Linked DNA regions of Homo sapiens: region 2 is linked to region 1. A link means that fine-mapping ties the variant in region 1 to the expression of a gene that starts in the linked region. Tissue or cell type: whole blood. Region 1 holds a variant in brackets; the other region holds the start of a gene. All regions are shown on one strand. Distances are between the middles of the regions.

Evidence for each region. PIP is the estimated chance that this variant, and not a neighbour inherited with it, causes the effect.
Region 2: it holds the start of GDI2, and the variant in region 1 is fine-mapped to the expression of GDI2 in whole blood (TOPMed, PIP above 0.99).

The regions. Positions count from the first base shown.
Region 1 is chr10:5,848,050-5,859,223 of GRCh38, reverse strand. It overlaps TRV-TAC3-1 (tRNA-Val (anticodon TAC) 3-1), which reads left to right and starts at 5,441; the gene lies at 5,441-5,513. RefSeq lists a silencer at 5,392-5,592, enhancers at 6,073-6,132, 6,389-6,558, 6,653-6,742, 6,873-6,922 and a cis regulatory region at 6,473. The variant C/T (reference allele first, on the strand shown) is at 5,933.
Region 2 is chr10:5,808,687-5,818,039 of GRCh38, reverse strand. It overlaps GDI2 (GDP dissociation inhibitor 2), which reads left to right and starts at 4,606. Exons shown (of 11, transcript NM_001494.4): 1 at 4,606-4,826. The coding sequence starts at 4,782. LOC124902367 (a long non-coding RNA gene) reads left to right here and starts at 4,843. Exons shown (of 2, transcript XR_007062041.1): 1 at 4,843-5,725; 2 at 6,084-9,353. RefSeq lists enhancers at 266-385, 406-475, 3,836-3,935, 3,999-4,591, 4,592-5,184 and silencers at 4,136-4,315, 4,376-4,645, 4,786-5,325.

The sequences.
Region 1 (11,174 bases):
CCCAAAGCTCACTGGGTTGAAACAGGAGTCTGTAGGGCATCTGGGTGGCTTTGCTGCTCGCAACTGGGCTCACTCCTGCGTCCCGTCAGCCAGTGAGTTGCTGAGCTGGTATAGGATGGCCTTGGGTGGATCAAGCTGGCTCTGCTCCCCATGGTCTCTCCATTCGGCTAGCCCAGGCTTATTTTTCATGACAGTGGCAGAGATTCAAGAGAGAAAAGAGACTTAAATGTGCTTTCCAGTCTCCGCTCTGTTTGTGTAGATGCTTCCATCCCATTGGCCAAAGCAAGGCATGGTCATGCCCAGAATTAGTGTAGGGGGCAGAACCCACAGACTGGACACAGAGGCCATTGATTGGGGCCATTAATGAAACCAGTTCTTGCTTCATCTTTTGACCATTGTTTTGTCTTGTTGATTTGTAAGAGTCATTTTTATATTGGGTAAATTAGCTCTACACATAATTTCAAATAATGACAAAATTTGGGTTATACATTTACAAGTAAAAAAAAAAACAGACTACAGCACAGCAGAAATAATCTCCTTTATAGCTCCTTTAAAAAAAAAGAGCTCTTGTGAGTAGATACAGGCATACACAGGCACTCACTACAATGCTGGGAGTGGGATGGCACAGATTCCTTGGATATGATAGGGTGTTTCTATTTAGATTACAGTATGTGGTACCTTTAAAGCAGCTCTCAGAGTTCTAGAGCTTCCACCTGTGCCAGCCTACAACATGCATGGTCTTTATTTTTCCCAGTGTTGCTGAAAATCCACGATTAGCTAAAAGGTAAATGAACGCAAAAGACGTAGGAACAAAATCCAGCTTGTGGCTCGTCCTGTCCCTTGAACACAGAGCCTTGGGTCTACCACATCCTTTCCTCTCTTCCAGCTGATACAGACTTAGATAATTCCATTTTGTGATTTAATATTAGATGGAGGTGGGGTGGCTCACACCTGTAATCCCAGCACTTTGGGAGGCTGAGGCTGGAGGATGCCTTGAGCCCAGGAGTTCACAGCTGCAGTGAGCTATGATCACACCACTGCACTCCAGCCTAGGTGACTGAGTGAGACCCTGTCTCTAAATAAAGACCAAAAAATAACAGTGGACTAAACCAAAGTTTATTTTCTTTCCCGCATAAGAGTCTGGGCATAGCCAAGTACAGATGAGCTCAACCAGCCCCAGGTGTCAGCCCCCCGGTTCCTTCTGCTGGTTGTTCTGCTGTCCTGAGTAGGTTGCCCTTTTCCATGTGGTCCAAGATTGCTCCCCAACCTGTGGAGGGGAACAGGAATGAAGGGGAGGGCCAGGCGCAGTGGCTCACACCTGTAATCCCAGCACTCTGGGAGGCTGAGGCAGGTGGATCACTTGAGGCCAGAAGTTCGAGACCAGCCTGGCCAACATGGTGAAACCCTGCCTCTACTAAAAATACAAAAATTAGGCTGGGCACCGTGGCTCCTGCCTGTAATCCCAGCACTCTGGGAGGGTGAGATGGGTGGATCAGCTGAGGTCGGGACTTGGAGAGCAGCCTGACCAACATGGAAAAACCCCATCTCTACTAAAAATACAAAATTAGCCGGGCATGGTGGCACATGCCTGTAGTCCCAGCTACTCGGGAGGCTGAGGCAGGAGAATCTCCTGAACCTGGGAGGCGGAGGTTGCAGTGAGCCGAGATCGTGCCATTGCACTCCAGCCTGGGCAACAAGAGCGAAACTCCATCTCAAAACAAACAAACAAAAATTAGCTGGGCATGGTGGCACACACCTGTACTCCCAGCTACTTGGGAGGTTGAGGCAGGAGAATCGCCTGAACCCGGGAGGCAGAGATTACAGTGAGCTGAGATTGCATCTCTGCACTCCAGCCTGGGAGACAGAGTGAGACCCTGTCTCGAAAAAAATAAAATAAAAAAAATATATAAAAGAAAAAAGAATGAAAGGGAGGCTATGCATGCCCCCTTTTTTTCAGAAGGCATGTAGATCATTTCTGTTCACATCCTCCTGACCATAGATCAGTCATATGACTGCTAGAAGAAAATTGAAATTTAGGGATGGTTCAGGGCTTTGCCATATGCCCTTATCAGAGGTGCCTTCATTGAGACTATTTGGGGACAATTATCTGTGCAAGTCTTTGCTGCTGTCCCCACCCTTCCCCTAACACACACACTCCTTAACCTTAGCTTTTAAAGTCTTAGAGACCAGAGAGCAAATCCACTTATTTATAGATACGCAGTTGTAAGGGACATGAGAACAATCTGTGAAGATGGCATTCGGAGCAGAGAACAAGGCCGCATAGCCGTGTAGGGTGTTAGTCCCCTACAGTGATGCTCCAAGTGACCTCATGCAGGTCACACTCCCTGCCTCTCAGTGTCCTGGTAAACGATGGGCAAAATGGCACCTCCTTCCCAGGTTTACTGTGAGGATTAACCGAGTTGGTGTGTGTCAGACCCCGGTCCAGGTCCAGCCCATGCTGAAGTCCAAGGTGAGTGGGGTGGATGAGCAGAAACGCTTTGGTGCAGGGGGCCTAGGCAGGTGAATATGGTTTTATTCAGCAGCAGTTCTCATCAATGGCTTTTTATTAGCAGCTTACTCACATTAGCTCTCTCACCCTGTCCACCTTTATCTCTGCTATTTGCTTTGGCTCTGTGGCTCCTGTGACCCCCGGCTCTCCCTTGCCTTCAGGGTCAGCAGCTTAACTCTTTCTTTCTCTGGCACAAGCAAGCAGAGCTGTGTCCTGGCTCCCTCCTGTCTGTCTACAAGATGGACAGCTTTGGCTGTCTCCCTTTCTCTGGGCGCCAGCGCACCCACCACATCAAGCCATGTCGAGCCAAGCTGAGCCTCAAAAGCACCTGTACGGCGTCAGCAGGGCAGTTATACCTTTTACAGACAATAGTGGCTCAGAGCCAAGTATGAACTTACACAAACAGGTTATGTAACAAGCGGAGGTGTGCGCCTGCGCACCAAACTCACTGAGCCGTGCAGGCCTGTATATCCGCCTCGGTCTCTACCTTGACCAAATCACATCTATATACCTTACAGCGTGCATGATGCTTGGCCCAGCACGTGCACCCAACACGTGTGAGCCATTGTGAGTAACAGTCGCACCAGGTGAGCCTCTTTGGCTTAATGGGCTGAGTCGTCAAAGGCGAATGAAAATCATCAAGTTAGCAGCACAAGACCAAGAAGAGCTCAACTGAAGAAAGCAGTGAGACAAACACCATTTTTAGCCCCTTTTCCTACTTTTTCTCTTTCTCTTTCCCTCCCTGGGGATGTATGTCCTTAGCCCTTGGACGCCTCCATTGTCTTTATCAAAAAGAAAACTAGGTTTCAGTCTTCATTCATGCTAAGGTGTTAATGAAAAAATTTCAAATTTTATCAATCCTTGAGTTGTCTGCATTTTTTTTTTTTTGAGACAGGATTTCACTGTCAGGCTGGAGTGCAGGGGTGTGATCCCGGCTTACTGCAGCCTCTGACTCCTGAGTTCAAGCGATCTTCCTACCTCAGGCTCCCAAGTAGCTGGGACCACAGGCAGGCACCACCACACCTAGCTAATTATTTTTTTGTATTTTTTTTAGTAGAGACAGGGTTTCACCATGTTGCCCAGGCTGGTCTCAAACTCCTGGGCTCAAGTGATCTGCTCACCTCAGCCTCCCAAAGATATGAGCCACCATGCCCAGCCAATTGTCTGCATTTTAACAAGGATCAAATTATTAAACCGAAAGAATGAAGCTCTCAATATGAAATGCATGCGTCATTAAAAATGTAAAGAAGTATTTTCAAAAATGTATTCTAACTGGGCCTTCCTTCATATCTTTATTTGTATTTTTTGTTTTTTGTTTTTTTTGAGACATAGTCTCCCTCTGTCACCCAGGCTGAGTAGCACCAGGTGAGCCTCTTTGGCTTAATGGGCTGAGTCGTCAAAGGCGAATGAAAATCATCAAGTTACCAGCACAAGACCAAGAAGAGCTCAACTGAAGAAAGCAGTGAGACAAGCACCATTTTTAGCCCCTTTTCCTAGTTTTCTTTTGCTCCTTCCCTCCCTGGGGATGGAAGTGCAGTGGCATGACCTCGGTTCACTGCAACCTCCGCCTCCTGGGTTCAAGCCATTCTCATGCCTCCGCCTCCTGAGAAGCTGGTACACACACACTCAGGTGTGTGCCACCACACCTGGCTAATTTTTGTATTTTTAGTAGAGACGGGGTTTCACCATGTTGGACAGGCTGGTCTCAAACTCCTGGCTTCAAGCAATCCACCCACCTCAGCTTCCAAAGTGCTGGAATTACAGGCGTAAGCCACCGTGCCTGGTTTGTATCTTTATATTTGTTTATTTATTTTTTTTTTTTTTGAGACGGAGTTTCACTCTTGTTGCCCAGGTTGGAGTGCAATGACACAATCTCGGCTCACTGCAACCTCTGCCTCCTGGGTTCAAGCAATTCTCGTGCCTCAGCCTCCTGAGTAGCTGGGATTACAGGTGCCCGCCACCACGCACAGCTGATTTTGTATTTTCAGTAGAGACGGGGTTTCACCATGTTGGTCAGGCTGATCTCAAACTCCCTACCTCAGGTGATCCGCCCGCTTCCGCCTCCCAAAGTGCATTACAGGCATGAGCCATCACGCCTGGCTGGGTCTTTATAATTTTTTTATAATTAAGACATTTTCTGTCCCTTTCATGACTACATCTTGTTAATTCAATTTCTATTCAGCATCTCAAATAGGTCCACTTTCAACAAGCCCACCGACAGCCACTAGGCAACTCCAGCCATTGTCCTCTTGTTCCAGGTACTGTGGCTGCACAGCAAATTACCCCCAAATCTAGCCGTGTAAAGCAGCCCTTTGTTATGCTCATGGATTCTATGTATAGGAATTCAGACAGGGTCCAGCAGCGATGGCTTGTCTCTGCTCCCAGGGACTGGGGATTGCAGCTGGAAGATTTGAAGGCTGAAATCACCCATGTCTGGCAGATGCTGCTGGCTGACGACCTCAGTTCCTCCTCACATGGGCCTCTCCCTCGGTCTCTCCATGTGGGCTGGTGTGAGCTGAGAGAGAGGGAGGGAGCGCCAGGCAAGGCCATATTGCCTGTCATAGCCTAACTTTATTTATGTATTTATTTATTTATTTATTTTTTTGAGACAGGGTCTCGCTCTGTTGCCCGGGCTAGAGTGCAGTGGCACGACCTCAGCTCACTGCAACCTCTGCCTCCCTGGTTCAAGCAATTCTCCTGCCTCAACCTTCCAAGTAGCTGGAACTACAGACACATGCCACCACGCTTGGCTAATTTTTTTTGTATTTTTAGTAGAGACGGAGTTTTGCCATGTTGCCCAGGCTGGTCTCGAACTCCTGACCTCAGGTGATCTACCCACCTTGGCCTCCCAAAGTGCTCGGATTACATGTGTGAGCCACTGTGCCCAGCCTCATGGCCTCATAGTCTAGCTTTGAAACTCAGCTAGCCTGTGGTTCCATAGTGTAGTGGTTATCACATCTGCTTTACACGCAGAAGGTCCTGGGTTCAAGCCCCAGTGGAACCATGGTGTGGTCTGTTGTTTTCCTGCCTGTAATCCTAGCTCCTCGGGAGGCTGAGGCAGGAGAATCACTTGAACCCAGAGGCAGAGGTTGCAGTGAGCTGAGACTGCGTGAAACTCATCTCAAAAAAAAAAAAAAAAGTCATGCAACGTCGCTTTGCCACATCCATTTGTCAAGGCAGTCAAAGTCTCGCCCGGGTTCAAGGTGAGGGAAGTAGACTCCACCTCTTGATGGGAGTGGTAAAGTTCTGGAAGAACAGGTGGGAGTGGAAATGCGGGAGCACCTTTCAGACATGGGCTCTGCCATGTTTCCCTTGGCTGAGTTACTGGGATGGCCTCATCACTGGCCTTGCTACTTCCACTTTTTTTTTTTTTTTTTTTTTTTGAGACAGAGTTTTGCTCTTGTTACCCAGGCTGGAGTACAA[C/T]GGCGTGATCTCAGCTCACCGCAACCTCCGCCTCCTGGGTTCAAGCGATTCTCCTGCCTCAGCCTCCCGAGTAGCTGGGATTCCAGGCATGTGCCACCACACCCGGCTAATTTTGTGTTTTTAGTAGAGATGTGGTTTCTTCATGTTGGTCAGACTGGTCTCCAACTCCCGACCTCAGGTAATCTGCCCTCCTCGGCCTCCCAAAGTGCTGGGAGTACAGGCGTGAGCCACAACACCCGGCCCTACTTTTTTGTTTTCTTTTGTTTTTGTTTTTGTTTTTGAGACAGAGTCTCACTTTGTCACCAGGCTGGAGTGTAGGGGGTGTGATTTCGGCTCACTGCAACCTCCACCTCCTGAGTTTAAGCGACTCTTCTGCCTCAGCCTCCTGAGTAGCTGGGACTACAAGCACCTGCCACCACGCCCAGCTAATTTTTGTTTTTTTTTTTAGTAGAGGTGGGGGTCACAATGTTGGCCAGGCTGGTCTTTAACTCCTGACCTAAAGTGATCCGCCCGCTTCAGCCTCCCAAAGTGCTGGGATTACAGGCGTGAGCCACCGTGCCCAGCCTACTTCTACTTTTGTACTTCCCTTTCTGTGACTCTCACAGAGCAGCCTGGGAAAGCTAGAAACAGATTAGCTTGTGCCCCTCCCTGCCTCTTACTTCTCAGGGTAGAACTGCCAAGGAGGCCAGAGGGACAGCCCAGTCTGTCACCGCAGACGCCTCTCACTCACCCTCTCTTCACGCCCCAGGCCTCCTTTCAGTTCCTCAAACAAAACGGACCAAGCCGATTTCCTTCCACCTCAGTGTCTTCCTGGAAATTTCTTTTCTCAACTTGTCATGAGTTTGATTCCTATTCGCCCTTCTTGCCACAGCCTGAATGTCTCTCCCTGGACAGGAACCATCGCTGATTCCACTCTAAAAATCCTTCCTGAAATCCTGTCACGTCACTTGTGCCAACGTGGATGAAGCTGCAGGACGTGATGTTAGGGTGAGACAAGCCAGGCTCAGAGAGACAAACACTGTAAGATCTCACTCATATGTGGCATCTAAAAACAGCAAACCTGGCAGGGCACAGGGGCTCACGCCCGTAATCTCAGCACTTTGGGAGGCCGAGGCGGGCGGATCATGAGGTCAAGAGTTTGAGACCAGTCTGGCCAATATAGTGAAACTCCATCTCTACTAAAAATACAAAAATTAGCTGGGCACGGTGATGCACGCCTGTAGTCCCAGCTACTCGGAAGGCTAAGGCAGGAGAATCGCTTGAACCCGGGAGGCAGAGGTTGCAGTGAGCTGAGATTGCACCATTGCACTCCAGCCTGGGCGACACAGCAAGACTTTGTCTCAAAAAAAAAAAAAAAAAAAAAAAAAAAGCACGAATCCCATTCATGGGGGCCTCACTCTCATGACCTCATCACCTCCCAAAGGCTCCACCTCTTAATACCGTCACCTTGGGAGTTAGGGTTTCCACCTATGAATTGTTCCACCTGTGAACACAAACATTCTGATCATTGCAGTATTTTTATCACAATAATAATAAAAAATACGTCGGGCGCGGTGGCTCACGCCTGTAATCCCAGCACTTTTGGAGGCCGAGGCAGGCGGATCACGAGGTCAGCAGATCAAGACCATCCTGGCTAACACAGTGAAACCCTGTCTCTACTAAAAATACAAAAAAATTAGCTGGGCATGTTGGCGGGTGGCTGTAGTCCCAGCTACTCGGGAGGCTGAGGCAGGAGAATGATGTGAACCCGGGAGGAGGAGCTTGCAGTGAGCCGAGATGGCACCACTGCACTCCAGCCTGGGCGACAGACCAAGACTCCGTCTCAAAAAAATAAATAAATAAATAAAATAATAATAATAATAATAAAGATGGCAGGAGAAATCCTTTGGAGGTCATGGGTATGTTTCTAACATAGATTTTGGTGATGGTTTCACGGGTGCATACTTATCCCCAAACTCATCAAGCTGTATACACTAAATATGCGCATATTTGTATGTCACTCATACTTCAATAAAGTGGTTGTAAAAAATCAATAAATAGGCCAGGTGTGGTGGCTCACGCCTGTAATCCCAGCACTGTGGGAGGCCAAGGTGGGCGGATCACGAGGTCAGGAGTTTGAGACCATCCTGGCCAACACGGTGAAACCCCGTCTCTGCTAAAAAACAAACGAACAAAAAAATTAGCCGGGCGTGGTGGCGGGCGCCCTTAGTCCCAGCTGCTCCGGAGGCTGAGGCGAGAGAATGGCATGAACCCGGGAGGCGGAGCTTGCAGTGAGCCGAGATTGTGCCACTGCACTCCAGCCTGGGTGACAGAGCAAGACTCCATCTCCAAAAAAAAAAAAAAAGGATACAAAAATTAGCCGGCTGTGGTGGTAGATGCCTGTAATCCCAGCTACTCAGGAGGCTGAGGCAGAATTGCTTGAACCTGGGAGGCAGAGTTTGCCGTGAGCTGCGATCGCGCCACTGCACTCCAGCCTGGGTGACAGAGCAAGACTCTGTCTCGAAAAAGAAAAAAGAAAAGAAAATCAGTAAATAAAAAAGAAAATCAGTAAATAAAGCTATGCGTAGTGGCACATGTTTGTAATTCCAGCTACTCGAGACTCAGATGGGAAGATTGCTCCAGCCCAGGAATTCGACACTGCAGTGAGCTATGATTGCACCATTTCACTCCAGCCTGGGCAGCAGAATGAGACCCTGTCTCTAAAAAAATAAAAATAAAAATAAAGGATTAAAACTAAAAATCAGGCCAGGCACTTTGGGAGGTCGAGGTGGGAAGATCGTTTGAACCCAGGAGTTCAAGACCATTCTGGGCAACATAGCAAGACCCCATGTCTACCATAAGTAAATAAATATCAACAAATAAAAGCAGGCCCTTCCTGACAAATTCTCTCAGCACTCTGTAACATTCCTTCCAGGTATTGACAATATTCGTTCATATGGTTTTTGAATAGCATCCTTTCCTACAAAACTGGAAGGTCCCCAAGAGCAGTGTCCATGCCTGCTGTGTGCCAGGCGTGGAGGAGATCCTCTGTGGATGTTTGCTGAATGAATGAATGATACAGGGGAGGAGCAGCGAACAAAGAGTCTGTCTTCACCTTCAAGAATCAACCTCTGAAAGAAGAGCCAGGGCCGGGTGTGGTGGCTCACACCCAGCACTTTGGGAGGCCGAGGCAGGTGGATCACCTGAGGTCAGGAGTTTGAGACCTGCCTGGCCAACATGGCAAAACCTCATCTCTACTAAAAGTACAAAAAAATTAGCCGAGCGTGGTGACGGGCGCCTGTAATCCCAGCTACTTGGGAGGCTAAGGCAGGAGAATTGCTTGAACCCAGGGGGCGGAGGTTGCAGTGAGCCGATATCACACCATTGCACTCCAGTGACAAGAGCAAAACTCCATCTCAAAAAACAAACAAACAAAAACAAGAAGAGCCAGGGCTGGGCACAATGGCTCACACCTGTAATCCCAGCAATTTGGGAGGCTGAGGCTCAAAGAAGATTATTTGAACCCAGGAGTTTGAGACCAGCCTGGGCAACATAGGGAGACTCTGTCTCTACAAGAAATAAAAAATCAGCCAGGCATGGTGGTGCACACCTGTGGTCCCAGCTTCAGGAGACTGAAGCGGGGGGGATCGCTTGAACCCAGGTCGAGGCTGCAGTGAGCTGTGATTGTACCACTGCATTCCAGCCTGGAAGACAGAACAAGGCTCTATCTCTAATATTAATAACAACAATAATAATACAAGAAGAGCAAGACTGGCATCACCATAAGACAAGTGCAGTGTGATAAGGACTACCAGAGAGCTAGAAAGGCGAGGCTGGAAGGGAAGTCTTCCTGGAGAAAGTGGAATGAGGGCCAAGACTTGAGGAATGGAAGGAAGTTGATTGGTGGAGAAGTTGGGCAGCTCTTTCTGAGCAGAGTCAAGATGTGGATGTGATAGCATGAAACTTGGCTGGCCAAGTAAGATGCCAGACCCCTGGTTATGTTTGAATTTCAGGTAAGCAATGAGTTATTTCTTGTTATCAGTAATGTCCCAAATAATTGCACAAAACCTATTTATTCTAAAAAAGTATTTGTGGCTTATCTGAATTCATGTTGAACTAGGTGGCTTATATTTTTGTTGTTGTTGTTTGTTTTCGTTTTTTTGAGACAGGCTCTCGTTCTGTCACCCAGGCTGGAGTGCAGTGTCACAATCTCAGCTCACTGCATCCTCCACCTCCTGAGTTCAAGCAATTCTCCTGCCTCAGCCTCCTGAGTAGCTGGGATTACAGACGTGCACCACCACGCCTGGCTAATTTTTGTGTTTTTTAGTAGAAATGGGGGTTTCACTGTGTTGGCCAGACTGGTCTCGAACCCCTGGCCTCAAGTGATCTGCCCACTTCAGCCTCCCAAAGTGTGGGGATTACAGGTGTGAGCCACTGCACCTGGCCTGTCTTGTATTTTTATTTGCTAAGTCTGGCAACCCTAGATGAGATGCTAATCCATGTGGCAATTTGGCTCTTTCTGAAAGGGCATAAATGAACTCTATTTCTTAGCTGACCACAGGAAAAAAAATGAGTTAAACTGAATTTGGAGCCCAGATTCTCAATCATTGCTGAAAGAATCAACCTCAAAATCTCAGGAACTTACCAGAGTAAATGTTTATTTCTCGTCTGTGAAATGTCTGACGTGGATGTTCTTGGTTCATGGGTTTTCCCTGAACCAAGATGGTTTTCCGCTGAGCGGTAAACTCAAGGACACAGGCTCCTTCTGCTGTGCAGTGTCACCAGCTTGGACTCCTTGGCTTCCAGTCACACAAACTGAGGAAAGAGACAGCAGGAGCTGTCACACAGCCCTTCTGTGGGCAGGCCTGCCAATGGCCTCAACTCTGGCCATGTTCCATTAGCAACACTAGGTGTGTGACTCCACCCAGATGCTGGGAGGGCCTAGAAATGTCATCTTCCTAGGCCGAGCGTGGTGGCTCACGCCTGTAATCCCAGCACTTTGGGAGGCCGAGGTGGGCAGATCACGAGGTCAGGAGTTCGAGACCAGCCTGATCAACATGGTGAAACTCCGTCTCTACTAAAAATACCAAAATTAGCCGGGCGTGGTGGCATGCACCTGTATTCCCAGCTACTCAGGAGGCTGAGGCAGTAGAATTGCTTGAATCCGGGAGGCGGAGGTTGCAGTGAGCTGAGATCCCGCCATTGCACTCCAGTGTGGGCGACAGAGGGAGACTCTGTCTCAAAAAAAAAAAAAAGAAAGAAG
Region 2 (9,353 bases), 40 kb after region 1:
TCTACCAAAAATACAAAAATTAGCTGAGCATGGTGGGCACATGCCTGTACTCCTAGCTACTCAGGAGGCTGCGGAGGGAGGATCACTTCAGCCCGGGAGGCTGAGGCTGCACAGAGCTATGGTTGTGCCACTGCACTCTGGCCTGGGCAACAGAGTGAGACCCTGTCTTAAAAAAGAAAAAAGGAAACTAGTACCAATATCATCATATTCAGTCCTTGTTGATCTAGGGCTCAACTTCCAAGTCCCCTATTCATTTGTCAAATATTTACTCATCCTCTACTAGTTGCTCAGCCCTTTACTGGCTGTCCAGGCTTCATATCCCTGCCCCTATGGAGTTTACATCCAATTTGAAAAGCAAAGAACAAGTGAAGAAAATAATTACCCCCTCTAATAAGAGCAGTGAGAAACAAGCAGGGTACTGATAGAGAATGATGGTTGAGGGGAAAGCTGAGACCTAAGGAAGTGGAAAAAGTTAGCTGTATGAAGAAGTGCAGGGGGAAGTGAGGGGTGGTAGCCATGGAACCAAGAGTACAAAGGCCCTCGGGTGGTTGAAAGCTTGACCAGATTCTAGGAACCGAAACACATGCATGTTTGGGGTTTAATGATCAAGGAGCCAAGGAGCACTAAAAAATAGAGTTGGAGAGACATACAGAGGCTAGATTAAGGTATTAGGTCATATTTAAGGATTTACAATGTATCCCTTTTTTTTTTTTTTTTTTTTTTGAGATGGAGTCTTGCTCTGTCTCCCGGGCTGGAGTGCAGTGGCGCCATCTTGGCTCACTGCAACCTCTGCCTCCCAGGTTCCAGCAATTCTCCTGCCTCAGCCTCCTGAGTAGCTGGAATTACAGATGTGCACCACCACACCAGGCTAATTTTTGTATTTTTAGTAGAGACGGGGTTTCACCATGTTGGTCAGGCTGGTCTCGAACTCCTGACCTCAGGTGATCTGCCTCAGCCTCCCAAAGCACTGGGATTACAGGCGTTAGCCACCATGCCTGGCTAGGATCTACAATGTATTCTAAGTACAAAAGATATACAGAAGCCTGAACATGATCTGATGCGTGTTTTTAGAAGATAATGGACAGAACAGATAGGAGAAGAGGAAAAAGAGAGGGAAAAAAGCCTGTTGAGAAACTGCCACAGTGATGCAGGAGAGAAAAAGATGGTCTGGGCTGAGGTTCGCTCTCATTTTCTTTCCTTAGATTAAATCTCTCCTTTTCAAAGGGCAGATGGATGCTTAGTAAAAACAGATCAGCAAACAATTATTCCCATGTACCCAAGTATAAATAAGACTCCATGGATTCCTGCTTTGCATAAAGGTTTGAAATATTTTATTTTATTTTTTTTTTGAGACGGAGTCTGGCTCTGTCACTCAGGCTGGAGTGTAGTGGCGCGATCTTGGCTGACTGCAACCTCAGCCTCTCGGGTTCCACTGATTCTCCTGCCTGTCTCCCGAGTAGCTGGGACTACAGGCATGTGCCACCACACCTGGCTGATTTCAAGATTTGAAATATTTTAAAGATTGATGGTGTCCTGGTTTGATCTTGGGTTTTGGCACCAAAAAATAAAATTAAAAATAAAGATTGATGTTTACCACTCATCTTCACCAACCAACCTACTTCCCCTAAACCTAAGGTTTCACTGTAGCAGGAACTACCATCTGTGGCATGAGATCAACTCAACCAATTAGTGGCTTTCAAGCCTCTTCACCTTAAGCAGTATTTGTCATCTACAAGTTCCCTTGCAACTGGAATGGGTGGGGTGGAAGATCCAAGAAAAGCACAGAATTTTCTTTTTTTGAGACAGGGTTTTGCTCTGTTGCCCAGGCTAGAGTGCAGTGGCATCATCATGGCTTGACCTTCCTGGGCTCAAGTGATCCTCCCAGCTCAGCCTCCTGAGTAGCCAGGACTGCAGGCTCATGCCACCATGCCCAGCTGATTTTTTTTTTGAGACTGAGTCTCGCTTTGTCACCCAAGCTGGAGTGCAGTGGCACGATCTTGGCTCACTGCAACCTCTGCCTCCTGGGTTCAAGCAATTCTCTGCCTCAGACTCCTGAGTAGCTGGGATTACAGACGCCTGACACCACGCCCAACTAATTTTTGTAGTTTTCGTAGAGACGGGGTTTCACCATCTTGGGACGGGTTGGTCTTGAACTCCTGACCTCGTGATTCACCCGCCTTGGCCTCCCAAAGTGCTGGGATTACAAGCGTGAGCCACTGCACCCAGCCTGCCCAGTTTTTTTTTTTTTTTTTTTGAGACGGAGTCTCACTCTGTTGCCCAGGCGGGAGTGGAGTGGCGCGATCTCGGCTCACTTCAGCCTCCGTCTCCCGGGTTCAAGCGATTGCTCTGCCTCAGCTTCCCGGGTAGCTGGGACTACAGGCACGTGCCACCATGCCCGGCTAATTTTTGTATTTTTAGTAGAGATGGGGTTTCACCATATTGGCCAGGCTGGTCTCAAACTCCAAACTCCTGACCTTGTGATCCGCCTACCTCAGCCTCCCAAAGTGCTGGGATTACAGGCATCAATCACCGTGCCCGGCCTCCAGCTAATTTTTTTTATAGGGACAGTGTCTCTGTTACCTAGGCTCTACAGCACAGGCTGGTCCCAAGTGATTCTCCCATCTCCCACTCCTGGCCCCAAGTGATCCTCCCATCTCAGCCTCCCAAAGTGTTAGGATTACAGGTGTGAAGCACTGTGCCTGGCTCAGGTACAACATTTTAGATGCACTCAGTCCGTTAAGGCTTAGTCCAGGTTTGATTGTTATTGTCCTTCTGTTGGGCCATAGGGCCTGTACTGTGAACTAAAATGAACTTCAGTGTTAAGTAAGGAAGGGATCCTTATTAGCCTTAAATTCAATTCCCTTATCTCAGTGTCTTCAAGTTTCTCACAACTCTTGAGTATCGATAAAATAGTCTTCACCTAAAACATGGTTAACATAATTCAGTTGACATGCTTAAATTTCTCTTCAAGAGCCAGAGGCTGATGGCAATTGTGAAAAAAGCTCTTTATTGTTATTGCTAATAAAAAAAAAAGGGCCAATAGTCAGGTGTGGTGGCCTGTACCTCTTGTCCCTGCTACTGGGGAGACTGAGGTGGGAGGATGGCTTGAGCCCAGGAGATCAAGGCTGCAGTGAGGCATGATTACACCGCTGCACTCCAGCCTGGACGACAGGGTGAGATTGTCTCAGAAAAATAAAGAAAAAGGGTTATTTCATATTGGTTCAAAAATATAGGTAGTATGACCCCCTGATGACTTGAAGACAGAGCAACAGAAGGACCTTCTTTAGTCATCATTAGCTTAGCCAAAAGAAAAGTCAGTTACACTCACTGTTGCATAATCAGTTGTATGGTCAACTGTGCACTAATTCATTTGGTCACAAATATATACAATCAAATTAAGGTTGAATGTAAATTTAAACTTTACTTTTGCTTTCTTCTCCCCTCCCCCCCAGAAAGATCCATGGTCCAATATAACATATCTTCTTCAAGTATTTATGGGGTAAGAAACATTTTAAAAAGTTGTTACATTCTTTCCTCTATCTTAATGATTTAAATATGAGCAAGTTCGGTCTATCAAGGCAGGCTCTGAATAGCTACTATCGAGAAGTATTTGAGGAGTTCTTGAATGCCAAATCTTCATTGTCTGCTGACTCTGCAGATTTATCACGTGCTGAAAGCACAGGTTTTCCAACTGTCAACGTCTTTACGAAATTCACCTGCTTAGGCTTTCGTGGGGTCGGCCTCTTGGAGCTGAGAACACAGCTTCTGCTTACACCTGTGTCCTCAATGAAGCCAGAGATTCCTAAGAGAATTCTAGAAAAAGAGGAGCGGGGTAGAAGGCAAGCAAGGAACAGTTTCTAAGCTTAGGGCCTAAACCTTTGCATACAAGGATCAGCTACCACGTTTACAGCGGCTTTAAGTTACAGCCCTCGGTAGGTGCAGATCGGCTTCCCAATGAAACCTGGCTTTCACTTTCATCTCTGTTAAGGGTTACCTTTTCAAAAGAAGCCGCTTTTCCTCCTACCAATTTCCTAAAGCGCCCACCGGCAACGCACTAAACAAGGAGGGCACAGAGCGGGAAAAAGGACACGTGTGATTTCCGAACTCTTCCCGGCGGGCTCCGGGCCCCGGCAAGCCCAGCCCCGCGGGAGGAACCAAGGCCGCCACCCCCGAGAGGCAGCCCGGCCCGCGCTCCTCGCCCACGTGGCCGCCGCACGCGCCCGCTCAAAGTCCAAGGGCGGCGATCCGGCTCTGGGACCTTGGACCGAGCGAGCTCCCGCCCCGACGGCGGGAGTCAGAACGGTGGTGGCCAGCAGTCCCCGCCCGCGGCTCCGTGCACCTCCACCCCGGCCCGCGCGCCGCCTCCCGAACCACCGTGGCAGAGGCCGCAAGGGGAACCGGAAGCCAAAATGGCGACGCCCCGCCCTTTTCCTCTCGCGAGAGGCGGGGAAGGAAAAAAAGTTGTGCGAGCGACGGGGACGTAACCAATTAGAGTGCCGGGAGCGCCTGATTGGCGGCCCTCCCGGCGCCTGCAGGCCCCGCCCCGGCTGCGGAGGCTCAGTCACAGCCCTCCCCTCCTCGCTCCCTCCCCTCCTCTCCCCGCCCAGTTCTTCTCTTCCCGTCTGAGGTGGCGGTCGGTCTCGCCTTGTCGCCAGCTCCATTTTCCTCTCTTTCTCTTCCCCTTTCCTTCGCGCCCAAGAGCGCCTCCCAGCCTCGTAGGGTGGTCACGGAGCCCCTGCGCCTTTTCCTTGCTCGGGTCCTGCGTCCGCGCCTGCCCCGCCATGAATGAGGAGTACGACGTGATCGTGCTGGGCACCGGCCTGACGGTGGGCGCCAGGGCTGAGGGGCCGGGGCTGAGCAGCCGGGGCGGGCGCACCCCCGGCTCCTGCACGGCCCGCGGGTCGCAGCTCCTCGGGGGTCTCGTTCTGCCGTCAGCCGTAGTTTTCGGGACGGGAGTCGTGGCTAGGGGCGCGGGCGGGTTCAGGGGCGCCCCGCGTCCCGGGGCGAGCGGGCGGCTCCCAGTGTGAGGGGCAGGCGGGGAAATGGAGATGCGGGCCGTGAGGCTCGGGGCGGGGTGACGGCCGAGCCCGGCCTCTGCGCTTGCCCCCAGCGGAAGCGGAGGGGAGGGGAGAAGGCCGCCCGGGCCAAGGGTCCCGCTCCCCGGTTTGGGCCGGTGACCTCGCCCGGTTGGAAACCAGCACCCGAGGCGGAGGGGACGGTGCAGGCCTCGCGGTTGCATTTCCTATTCCGCCTCGGCCGCTGCCCCGGGTCAGTCTGGCTGCCAAAGCCGAGTACGGGGTTTCCTGACAAGTCTTGGATAATCACTGCTTCGGAACTGCTAGGGCTTGATTAACTTATATTTTTGGCGAAAACGTGGAAATTAGTCTTTTAATCCTTTCTCCCCCCTGCTAATGAGAAGTATTATTGAATCCTTTTAGCCACCCTCCCTTCTCACTTACTGAGCATCTGTAGAATTGGAATTGAGTTTTTTCAAAACTTGTCCGTCAAATGCTTTCGCACCTGACCTTCGCCGCCTTTTCCTTTTGTTTGGTGGGTTCTCTGCCTCCTTTGTCTCTTCTGGACTGTTTTCCCCTAAGAATTGGGTTGGTGATGGATTGCTAAAAGCCAAGTTCTCTGTACTCCGAAGCTTTCTTCAGGGAGTTGGAAGATAATAACATGAAGAATGCATTGTAATATATGAATGCAAGGTGTACCTAATATCATGGTATATTGATTTTCCTGGTTATCTGTTTCTAAGGGAACTTTAGGTAATCTGTAGATAACGCAGGCAGGTTCTGTAGTTTGTACTTTTTCTGTTCTTTTTTTTTTTTTTTTAAATGTTCATCTTGCAAAAGAATTCACTTTGGAGAAAACCATTTTAACTATCAATTTTTGGGGAAATTTGAAATTCTAACTTTGGGCTGCTTGATCATAATTAAGATGAATACTGATGTAAATCTTGTGTATCCTATGTACTCTGACTTCAAATTCCTGAGTCATTTAATGTAGACTTCCACTTCAAATTTTTTGAAATTTATTATAATCTCTCAGGGTCAAACCAATTTTTTTTTTTTTTTTTACAGGTAACATCCCAAAATAACACTTTTAGATGTCTCTAGGCAAGAGAAAACCTTCGAACTTTTATTTGGCTAATTTTTTAGGAAAGGTTTGTGAAGAATTAGAATCGTGTTTTTCTGGTCTGTCATTTTTCTGTTTATAGTTATATGCAATTATTAGAGAATATTCATTCTGAATACTTCGTTATGTTTGACCAATCCAGGAATAATCCTGTGTCTGTCTTTGAAAAGCTGGAAGACTGTTGGATGCCTAAATGAATAGGCCCTACCCACTGCAGGTTTTGTGCTTTTTTTTTTTTTTTTTTAAGTGCCTAATTGGGATTCCAAGCTGAGCTTAGTAGTTTGTGGTGGATTTTGCCTGTTGGAATGGGTAGTGTTGCTGCCAGCGTGTTTTAAGAGCCGGTTAGTTCCACCGTTTTTCTATGGTTGTTGCTGGTCTTTCAGATTTGCTCACAATTGAGGTCAGTTAAGCATGCACGAGTGAGTGCAAATCCACCATCATGCAGGCTTCCACAAGCCTCGTTCACATCACTTTGTATCAAAGATGGTGAAAGTGTTTTTATATAACAAGTTAAGATAATGAGCTTTGTTTAAATTTTCATTCGGATTGTGAACTCTTTGATGAATGGTAGATGCATACTTAACTAGAAATCAGACCTGTTTCTGCTGTCATTTTGTAGCTGTGATAACTTTAATCTCTGTGAGCCTTCCTAAGTTTTCTGAGATGTTCTTTGATAATTATATCAATTCAGGACAATCACATTATTACCATCATTGATAGGAGTAGTGATGACAGGATGATTTTGATAATGAGAAATCATATATCCTTATTTTTAGTGTTACCAGGAATTAGATGATTAAAAATTAGAAGAAGAGAAAACCAAAGTTAGCACTCAGAATTAACTTTTGAATGTCTGGAGTTAATTAATTTTCTTAAAATTTACTTTAGTGCCTGAGACTTAAGAACCTAAAAAAAGGCAAGTACTTTCAGTGTTAGGAACTTGTTACTTTTAAAGAAGTGTAAGGAAGTGCTGGAGTTGCTGTGTTGCTTAGTGCTGCCATTGTTTGTATGAGTTGTTAAGTCTAAGCTCATAATCACAAATATTGATAGTTATCTTAATCAAGAAGATACAAAACGATTTGGTATAAAGGAGTAAAATCTTCATTCTGTGTGTAAAAGAAATGGAATATTCCACACAATTGAATTTTCTGAGGAACTAAAGGTTATCTCTAAAGAGCACAGCTTTTGGATAATGCCTTTCTAAATGCTGTCACAACTTCTTTAACAAACTAAGAAACATAATTTACTTGATAACCAAGTTTTCACATAGTGAAGATTAACTATTGTGTTATGCTGTAACATGGTGAAGCCATGAAGACCCCGCCAGCTTTGTAGGAACTTTTGCCCCCTTTACTCTCAGGCTGCTATGCTTTTTGAGCTCTTCAGTTTACTCTTCATATTTTTTCCCTCTATCTTACTTTACTGTTAGGCTGGCAACATTTACTTTTCTCTGCTTTCAGCATGTGTAGGCAGCCTCTCACCACATAATTTGCACATAGTTCACTATGGACTTGGAAATAAATTCACGAGTCTTGTTAGACATAGTAGATTAAAACAATAAGAGTAACTAGTTCCACAGCTGTTTGTGCTTCCCAGAGGTTTTTTTCTTCCCATTTTTTGTTCTACACAGTAAGAATTTATGAATAGAAATATATACTTTAGTGATGTATACCAGATGATTCTCAGCATCATATGTTTAAAAACTTGCTTTACATCCCAGATACTTTTCCTCATTTCTCTTTATCAGAATTTTGTGATTTCAGATTCAGAGAAGGTTTTATACTTGATTTTAAAATTCTGAACTAAAATTCAGATTGCCTCTTGGATTTGCTTAATCTTTGATTTGCTCTTTGAGAGTTCTTGCTTATAGCTGTGTTAGAGTTCTGTAGACAAAGGACTTTCTATTCACTACAGTAGTGAGCATAGGATCAATATTTGCAAATGCTGTTACACTTGGGAGCTGTGTTGTAGGCAGTTTAAACCAGCGTTAAGCATCCTGGCCAAAAGAAAATATAAGTGAAATTAGACATATTTTAGCATGTAGAGATGACAATAGTGTGACATTGGTTTTTAAAGACCACTGGTAGATGTTCACATGCGTGATACACTGCAATTACCTCTGTCTTCCCTCCCATGGTACCTGATTGGAGACTCTTACTGGAGTAATAGTTTCAGTTTCAGTTATTTAAACCCAGTGACTATTGTGATCAGTTATGGGCAGTAAAAAGGTAAACACAGAACCTGTCTATAAGTAGCTTGTTCTCGTGTTGGAGAGTAACTAATAAGAATTAGTATGAGAAAGCATTAAGTCCCCTAAGAGGTGCACTTATATGAGTTCAGTCAGGGAATCAGGAAAACCTTCGTAAAGAAGGAGATATTTAGCTGGCTTTAAAAAAATATTGGCAAGGTTTGAATGGAGGAATGATTTTTTAGGCAGAGAGCAGTCAGTGTAAGTCAATGCTAAGTCAAGGATGTATGTAGGGAATGGGGAGTGGTTTGTTTTGCTTGAAACAGAAGCTTTGGAGAGAGATTCTAGGCTAAGAAATGTGAAAATTATCTTCAAGGCAGTGAGAGAGGACTTTGAGCAGGAGAGTGATATAATTAGCCACATTTCAAGAGAAGGTATCTTTTGACAGTTTTTTTTTTTGTTTTTTTTTGAGATGGAGTCTCACTCTGTTGCCCAGGCTGGAGTACAGTGATGTGATCTCGGCTCACCGCAACCTCTGCTTCCCAGGTTCAAGCAGTTCTCCTGTCTCAGCCTCCCGGGTAGCTGGGATTACAGGTGCCTGCCACCATGCCCAGCTAATATTTGTATTTTTAGTAGAGATGGGGTTTCACCATATTGATCAGGCTGGTCTCGAACTCCTAACCTCAGGTGATCCACCCGCCTAGGCCTCCCAAAGTGCTGGGATTATAGGCATGAGCCACCGCGCCTGGCTGACAGTTTTTAATGAGATGCATTAGAGGGGCAGAGTCATTTAAAGAAACATTCTTCATAAAACAGCCATTTTTATTATGTTGCTGTAAGATACTTGCCATTGAAATGAACTGATTTAAAATTTTTCTGGTTAATTTCTCATGTTTCTAGGTAAGTAGTTTTGAAAAGGCACTTTAATATTAGTTATTAGATACTTTGTACTCCTGATCACATTTGTGTGTGTGTGTGTGTGTGTGTATTTGTAGTTTTTTTTTTTTTTTTTTTTTAATAACAACAA